Homo sapiens: one gene and its partner. The protein of the gene in region 2 purifies or fractionates together with the protein of the main gene of each other region. This does not show direct contact. Each region holds a gene or a part of one and is shown on either strand. Other genes may lie near its edges.

Evidence for each region.
Region 1: the proteins of NUP210 (region 2) and SMYD4 purify together in Homo sapiens (affinity purification with mass spectrometry; one large-scale study listed by BioGRID and IntAct). This does not show direct contact.

The regions. Positions count from the first base shown.
Region 1 is NC_000017.11:1,819,757-1,823,563, forward strand, and holds part of SMYD4 (protein-lysine N-methyltransferase SMYD4), read right to left. Parts: intron 1-3,807. UniProt on the Homo sapiens protein: Protein-lysine N-methyltransferase. Monomethylates PRMT5, modulating its transcriptional activity. May also act as a histone methyltransferase. Plays a critical role in cardiac development.
Region 2 is NC_000003.12:13,417,379-13,421,803, reverse strand, and holds the start of NUP210 (nuclear pore membrane glycoprotein 210 precursor), read left to right. Parts: upstream 1-1,481; 5' UTR 1,482-1,577; coding exon 1,578-1,744; intron 1,745-4,425. UniProt on the Homo sapiens protein: Nucleoporin essential for nuclear pore assembly and fusion, nuclear pore spacing, as well as structural integrity.

The DNA of each region.
Region 1 (3,807 bases), on a different chromosome or scaffold from region 2:
GCAATATTTACACAGACATAATATGTATTTACTTATTTTTGTTTGTTTTGAGACAGAGTCTCACTCTGTTTCCCAGGCTGGAGTGCAGTGGCACGATCCTGGTTCACTGCAACCTTCGCCTCTGGGGTTCAAGCAATTCTTCTGCCTCAGCCTCCCAAGTACCTGGGATTACAGGCACCTGACACCACGCCCAGCTAATTTTTGCATTTTTAGTAGAGATGGGGTTTTGCCATGTTGGCCAGGCTGGTCTCAAACTCCTGAGCTCAGGTGATCCACCTGCCTTGGCTTCCCAAAGGGCTGGGATTACAGGCATGAGCCACCATGCCCGGCCAAAAGTCAATTAAGAAAGTAAACTCGGATATTTAGAGTACCACCATGGACTTAAACAATTTATTATCATAAACTATTATCACCATTATACTTTTTCATGGTCAAATTATGCTAATATTGGCCAGTGACAACCTCTTCAGACTGGTTCCTATGTTCTTTTTTGTTGTTTTTGATCCAGGGTCTTGCTCTGTTGCCCAGGCTGGAGGACAGTGGTACCATCATAGCTCACGACAGCCTCGACATCCTGGGCTCAAGCAATTTTCCCACCTCAGCCTCCCAAATAGCTATGGCTACAGGCATGTGACACCATGCCCAGCTAACTTTTTATGTTTTTGTGGAGACACAGTCTCACTATGTTGCCCAGGCTGGTCTCAAACTCCTGGGCTCCAGCGATCCTCTTGCCTAAGCCTCCCAAAGTGTTGGGATTACAGGTGTGAATGGGGTCACCATACCTGGCCTACGCTCTTTTTTATATAAATCTATTAGTCTTCGAGCACGTCCTTGTTTTCTGACACAGGTTATTCCAGTTGAATCAGCACAAAATAAAAACAAACAATAAGCCTGTGAATGTGGATAGTGAAGCTATTAAGAATTTCCTACAACACTCTGGGAGATTATTAATTGCAGGAGTGGAGAGGTAGGGGTGGACAGTGGGAGGTCGTGTGTCTCAAAAGGTTTTCAATAGATGAAAGGCATCTCTTGTGGGAAAACATTCCTCAAAGAATGTCTATTGGCAAGAAAGAAAAGTGTGTGCTTGGCTTTAAACTTTAAAGGGCCAGTTCCTATTTTTACCTAACAGGCATGCATGTGGAGATCAGAAGTTTAAATCTTTTTTGGTTACTTTAGATTGTGATGGAACAGAATTACAAATAGCTCTTTGAGCTAACTTGTTTTTAAGGAGAGAGGTCTGGGTATGAATTAGTGAGAGACATACAGAGCAAACAAAAATGGAGGTGATTTATTAACCCCAGGGGAAACGAGAGCAGTACAAGAAAGGAAATGTAATTCAAAGCATCCTTCACGGTTCATGTGAACAAGACTCACACAGACATAAGAATGTATGCATTGAATGTTGGTTCAATCAATTTAATACTCTATTGGTTATATAACAGTTATCATGAGGGAATGAGGGAAAAACAAAGTATAGGCCGGGCAAGGGGGTTCACGCCTGTCATCCCAGCACTTTGGGAGGCCGAGGAGGGTGGATCACATGAGGTTAGGAGTTTGAGACCAGCCTGACCAATATGGAGAAGTCCCGTCTCTACTAAAAATACAAAATTAGCTGGGCGCGGTGGTGCATGCCTGTAATCCCAGCTACTCGGGAGGTGGAGGCAGGAGAATCGCTTCAACCCAGGAGGCGGAGGCTGCTGTGAGCCAAGACGGCACTATTGCACTCCAGGCTGGGTGACAAGAGCGAAACTCTGTCTCAAAAAAACAAAAACAAAAAACAAAGTATATACCTGTGAGTTGGGAAGAAGAGAGCAAAATTACATCTAAAATTATACAAACTCAAGAAAGAGCAGTATTTGCAATGTTTAGAAATAATAAATTACGTGTCAGAAGGCTGGGCACAGTGGCTCACACCTGTAATCCCAGCACTTTGGGAGACCAAGGTGGGCAGATCACCTGAGGTTGGGAGTTTGAGACCAGCCTGGCCAACATGGTGAAACCCCATCTCTACTAAATATACAAAAATTAGCTGGGTGTGATGGCACACACCTGTAATCCTAGCTACTTGGGTGGCTGAGGCATGAGAATCGCTTGAACCTGGGAGGCAGAGGTTGCAGTGAGCCCAGATCGTGCCATTGCACTCCAGCCTGGGTGGCAGAGTGAGATTCTGTCTCAAAAAAAAAAAAGGTCTGGTGTGATGGCTCATGCCTGTAACCCCAGCACTTTGGGAGGCTGAGGCGGGTGGATCCCTTGAGGTCAGGAGTTTGAGACTAGCCTGGCCAACATGGTGAAACCCTGTCTCTACTAAAAATATAAAAATTATATATTTTAGGCATATATAGTAGTGCATGCCTGTAATCCCAGCTACTCGGGAGACTGAGGCAAGATAATCACTTGAACCTGGGAGGCAGAGGTTGCAGTGAACAGAGATCGCGCCACTGCACTCCAGCCTGGGTAACAGAGTGAGACTCTGACTCAACCTGTTAAAAAAAAAATTAAATGCCAGAAGAAACAGTTAATTTAAAGTAGCTGTCTCTGGGGAATAAGAATCAGGAATGGGGAAGAGTGGACAGGGAGTTGCTGTTTTTCCTGATAAGTTTTGAAGCACTATTTGATTTCTTAAAGTATGTATGCATATTATTCTGATAAAAAATTAAACTAAGGAAGGAAAATATTTTCACTAAGGCATCTGGTCTACATAGTTTTACAGAATTTTTCTACTAGCCTTTAAGAAGCACATAATTCCTACATTATATAAGCTATTTCAGAGCACAGAAAAAGGCGGGAAGCTCTCCAATTCATTCTGAGGCTACCATAACCCACCATGGTATCAGCTGGGATTACAGGTGCCCGCCACCATGGCCAGTTAATTTTTTGTATTTTTAGTAGAGACAGGGTTTCATTCACCACGTTGCCCAGGCTGGTCTTGAACTCCTGACCTCAGGTGATCCACCCGCCTTGGGCTCCCAACATGCTGGGATTACAGGTGTGAGCCACTGCACCCGGTCAGATGATTTAAAAACTCTTACCTTTTATTTACACCACCAATCACCAATTAGAGAATGTAATTGGGGGGAAAAGCCTTATTCACAATAACAACAAAAACCTTACAAGAAGAATAAATCGAACATGAAATGTGTAAGACCTATATAAAGAAAACTATAAAACTTTACTTAAGGACATAGAAGAAGCCTTAAAGAAATGGACATACCCTTTATTTGGATTAGGAAATTTAATATTGTAAAGATGTCAGGTCTCCTTAAGTGAATCTATAAATCCAACACATTCCCAATCAAAAGCCCAACAACATTTTTTATAGAACTTGAGAAGCTGGCCGGGCACGGTGGCTCACGCCTGTAATCCCAGCACTTTGGGAGGCTGAGGCGGGTGGATCATGAGGTCAGGAGATCAAGACCATCCTGGCTAACGTGGTGAAACTCCATCTCTACTAAAAATACAAAAAAAAAAAAAAAGATAATAAAATAAAATTAGCTGGGCGTGGTGGCAGGCGCCTGTAGTCCCAGCTACTCGAGAGGCTGAGGCAGGAGAATGGCATGAACCCAGGAGGCAGAGCTTGCAGTGAGCCGAGATCACGCCACTGCACTCTAGCTTGGGTGACAGAGCGAGACTCCGTCTCAAAAAAAAAAAAAAAAAAAAAAAAAGAACTTGACAAGCCAATTCTAAAGTTCACATGGGGGAAATGCACACAAAATACCCAAGATATTCTGGAATACGAACAATGACTATGTGTGTGCGAGCAGGAAGCTGGCCTCTGGGCCACTTCCTGGGAGCCGCCTGGGTACTGAG
Region 2 (4,425 bases):
AGGGTATTGGGTGATGGGGAGGGAGAGGAATCACTTTCACTTGGAACCCTTTTGAGCCTAAGTTTCAACCATCTGTCTGGATTACCTGTTGGAAAACAAATCAATCTTGTGCAACCCAGAAGACACCCACAGACTTCCTCACAAATACCCTCTGAGGCTGCCTTTTCCGCGCAAGTCTGTTTTTTGTTTCTTCAAAGGGAGCCCGTTGGAATTCCCCTCCCAGAGCACCTGGTTCCACACAGGGCCGACCCTCACCCCCTTAGTTCTGGTTATCTCCAGAGATTTCCCCCAACACACACATTCCCTGGTCTAGGGCCCTCAGGCTTCGAGGGTGACCCCAAACACCCCGCATCACCATCCAAAAGCCCCATGATCCCTGAGGGGCAGGCTCAGCCTATGCGGGCCTCGCTGAAGCCCAGTGCGGTGTCTATGCCCAACCCAGGGGCCGCCGCCTCCAAAAAGCCTTCCTAGCCTTACTGACATTTATCCTCTCCTTCCTGGTCACCCAGTGGCATCGTTGTGTGTCTTCCTGGTTACAGTCAGCATCCACTTCCTGCACTCCTCAGACAGCCGGCCAGTGCACCCTCACCCCACCCTTTCCTGACCTCCCGCTAGGCTGGGCCTTCTCTGCAAGGCTAGATTCATATTTTAGCGGCACCAAGCAGTCAGGTGCCTGCTGACGCATGCCTTCATGCAATTCACGACAGACAGCTAAAAGCCACAGAGCACAGCGCGGAATCTAAGGCCTTCCATTGGTGTGCAGGTGGATTCCGCGGTGCTAAACTTTCTTTTGTGGGTGTGGGGGCCGTGGAGGGGGTTGTGCTCTGGCAGCGTTGGCGCCCTAAATGACCTATAGGTAACCTCTAATGGCTTCCGCAGGGGGTGCAGTGCGGAGGACAAGAGCTTGGGGCTCTCTGGCTGAGTGATCTGGGGGCCATTCAACCGGTTTTTTCCTGGAGAAATGGGAATCTTAAGGCCTCTCTGGAAAGGGTGTGAGGGGGTCGAGGGGGAGCGGGCCCCGGGCCTTCAGCGCTTCAGCAGGTGGCTTCCCTTTGCGAGCCCGGGGTCCCTCTTCTGGGAAGCATGGGCTGGGACAAGGCAGGCGCCGGTTTTCTGCATCCCAAATGTCCTGGGGCATGTGTCCCTTCCTTGCTGACCGTGGGTCCGGGCCAGAGCGCAAGGTCCAAAGCCGGCGGCTTGGCTCCACCGCCAGGGGCAAATACCAGGGCGGGATGCGTGCTGCGGGGCGCCCCGGGGGCTCCCCCTTGGGACTTCTAGGGTCCAGGGGTCCCCGCGGGCGCGCCCCAAGCCTTCTCCCTCAGCTCCGGGGGCCCGGGCGCGCGCCCATCCCCCAGCCCCGCGTCCCTGCGCGAGGGCCGGGCTGGGGGTGGGGTCGCCGCGAGCTCGGCCCCCAGAGTTCCCGCGCTCAGGCCCAGGAAGCGGCGGCCGCCGACGGCCCTCGCCCCGCCCCCGCGCTCATCACCTGCTGGCCTGGCGCGCGCGCGGGCGGGAGCGGAGGGCAACGGGGCGGCGCGGGCGGCCGGGCGCAGGGTCGCGGGAGGTGACGCGCGGCGAGGATGGCGGCGCGGGGCCGGGGGCTGCTGCTGCTGACGCTGTCGGTGCTGTTGGCGGCGGGCCCCTCCGCCGCTGCGGCCAAGCTCAACATCCCCAAAGTGCTGCTGCCCTTCACGCGGGCCACGCGCGTTAACTTCACGCTGGAGGCCTCGGAGGGCTGCTACCGCTGGTGAGGCGCGCGGCCGGGCCGGGCGGGCGCCGTGGGCCGGGCTGGGCCTTCGCGCTGAGAGGCTGGGCGGGCGCCGGGAGGCCGGCAGAGCCGGCAGGTGCGCGGCGCGCTCTCGCTGGGCGCTAGGCTGCAGCACTCGGAGCGGCGGGTGCGCGTGGGTCGCCACCACTGCTCATGTCATGGCGCCGTCCGGGCCTCCGCGCCGCTGAGGCGCGAGCAGAGCGGGCGCAGCCTGGCGGCCGTGACCCGCGTGTTCTGGGTTGTGCGGGAGGAGGGGTGGCCTGGGGAGCGGCGTCTGGGACCGCAGGGCCCAAGCCGGCCGGGCCCGAGCCGGCCTGACCCGGGAGGGGGCGCCGGGGCAGCTGGGCCGCACTTCCCTTGAGTCTGGGACCCCAGCTCGGGTTTGTCTGTGACCGCCCTCGCCCTGGCGTGGGAAGTGAGTCTGTGAAACGAAGCGCAGCGCCTAGCGTCGCGGGGAGGAACGGAGACCCTGGAGGAAAGGAGTTTTGGAGGGAAGCCCAGGGGCCGCTTTACAGAGGCGAAGTGAGACGAGGCAGGCCGGCGCTTCCCCTCAGGCTGCCTCGGCGCGGGTCCTGATGCTCAGGGCATTTCCATCACCCTCCCTCTCGGGTTGGGAGTTCTCCAAGGGGTCGGATGCGGAGTGTGACCCTGTGGAACCACAGGGACCCATGAAACCAGAGACCGACACTGACAGGGCGGTGCAGTCCAGCCCTTCCATTTTGCAGACCAGGGGAAATGGAGCTCCTGCCCCTGGCAAGGCTGCGTGGGCACGACTGAGCGCCCTTAGCTTCCCAGCCCAGCCGTCCTAGGGGTGAAAAGATGGGCTTCCGCCCTTCCCACCCCCAGGATGCTCAGTAGTTGCTCCCTTTATTTCTGTTTCAAGACTGGGTCAAGGTTGAGGCAGAACGGGGTGTGACCACGTGACAGCCATGTGTGTAAGCCTGGACATGTGTGTGTCAAGCCTGTTTGAGTATTAGTCTGTGCGTGTATGTAAGTGTGATGCCCGAAGCTCAGACCAGCCAGCTTTCTCTGTTGCTTGCACTATTTGCCCTATTTCTTTCTTTCTTTTTTTTTTTTTTTTTTTTTTTTTGAGACGGAGTTTTGCTTTGTCGTCCATGCTGACGTGCAGTGGTGCGATTTCGGCTCACTGCAACCTCCACCTCCCGGGTTCAAGCGATTCTCCCGCCTCGTAGCTGGGATTACAGGTGCAGGCCACCTGGCTAATTTTGTTTGTTTGTTTGTTTGTTTTTAGAGTGCACTCCAGCCCTTGTTGCCCAGGCTGGAGTGCAATGGCGCGATCTCTGTCCACTGCAACTTCCGCCTCCCCGGTTCAAGCGATTCTCCTGCCTCAGCCTCCCGAGTAGCTGGGATTACAGGCGCCCGCCACAACACCCAGCTAGTTTTTTGCATTTTAGTAGAGACGGGGTTTCACTATGTTGGCCAGGCTGGTCTCAAACTCTGGATTCACTGTGTTGGCCAGGCTGGTCTTGAACTCCTCAAGACCAAGGAGAACTCCTCAAGCGATCCACCTGCCTCAGCTTCCCAAAATGCTGAGATTACAGGCGTGAGCCACCATGCCTGGCTTGTCTGGCCAATTTTTGTATTTTTAGTAAAGATGGGGTTTCACTATGTTGGTCAGGCTGGTCTCGAACTCCTGACCTCAAGTGATCCCGCCGCCTCTGCCTCCCAAAGTGCTGGGATTACAGGCGTGAGCCACTGCACCCGGCCTGCCCTATTTCTTTTTTGAAGGTCTCCTTCCTGAAATCAAGACGTACTAGGTCAGCCCATTGCATTTTGGTTTTAGTGCTTTATGCACCTGGAGGCTCCTATTTCTGGCCTGATGCCAGAGGCTGAACTTGGGCATTAGGTTTTCTGTATCCCAGTCTAAGGCCTAGTCTTGTGTGGGAAAATCAGCTGTTAGTCAATACTGTGGCGGGGATACATGCTCATTCTCTTGTTGAAGCTGTCTGTCCTCTCAGTATGTGGGCAAGAAAGAGGAAACTGGTTATTAAAAACAGCTGGCTTCAAGTGAATCCCTTTGGATATATTTGTGTGTTACTTTCTCTGAGATTCTATAGCTGTACTTTTTTCTTTTTCTAAACTAACAACACTTTTTTCCCCCCCAACATCATTTTCTTTTCTGAGAGGAGCTGAAGGGTGTTGGTGGATTTTAATTTACTTGGTAGGAAAAAGGGAAAAAACATTCTTAATCTCTGATGCATCAGAGAAGTGCTAAGTACCTTATAACGTGTTTGGCGTTGATCTGTAGTTTGTATTGCAGATGTGTGACTGCAGATGTGTGACTGCTATTCAAAGTGTCTTCTCAGAGGTGTTTGGAAATTGTGATTCCCCCTTAACTTGACAGGAAGACATTCTGTCAATCAAGCATTGAGAATATTTTCTTTATTTTTAGTATTGCTGTTCCTAGTGTAGTCGTCTATTGCTGCAGTTTTGAAGAATCTGCTCTGGAGATTTTAAGAGCTGGCCTATAGACATATATCCACAGTCCTCTAAACCTGGGAGGAACATTACCTCTTCATCCAGAAAGTTCATTGTTAAGTCTCTCAGACGAAAAAGAAAATGAGAATTCTGCCAGACCCTGTGGGAACATTTGCACATCCATTGAATTTGCAGCTGAGCTCTAAGTTTACAGAAATCAC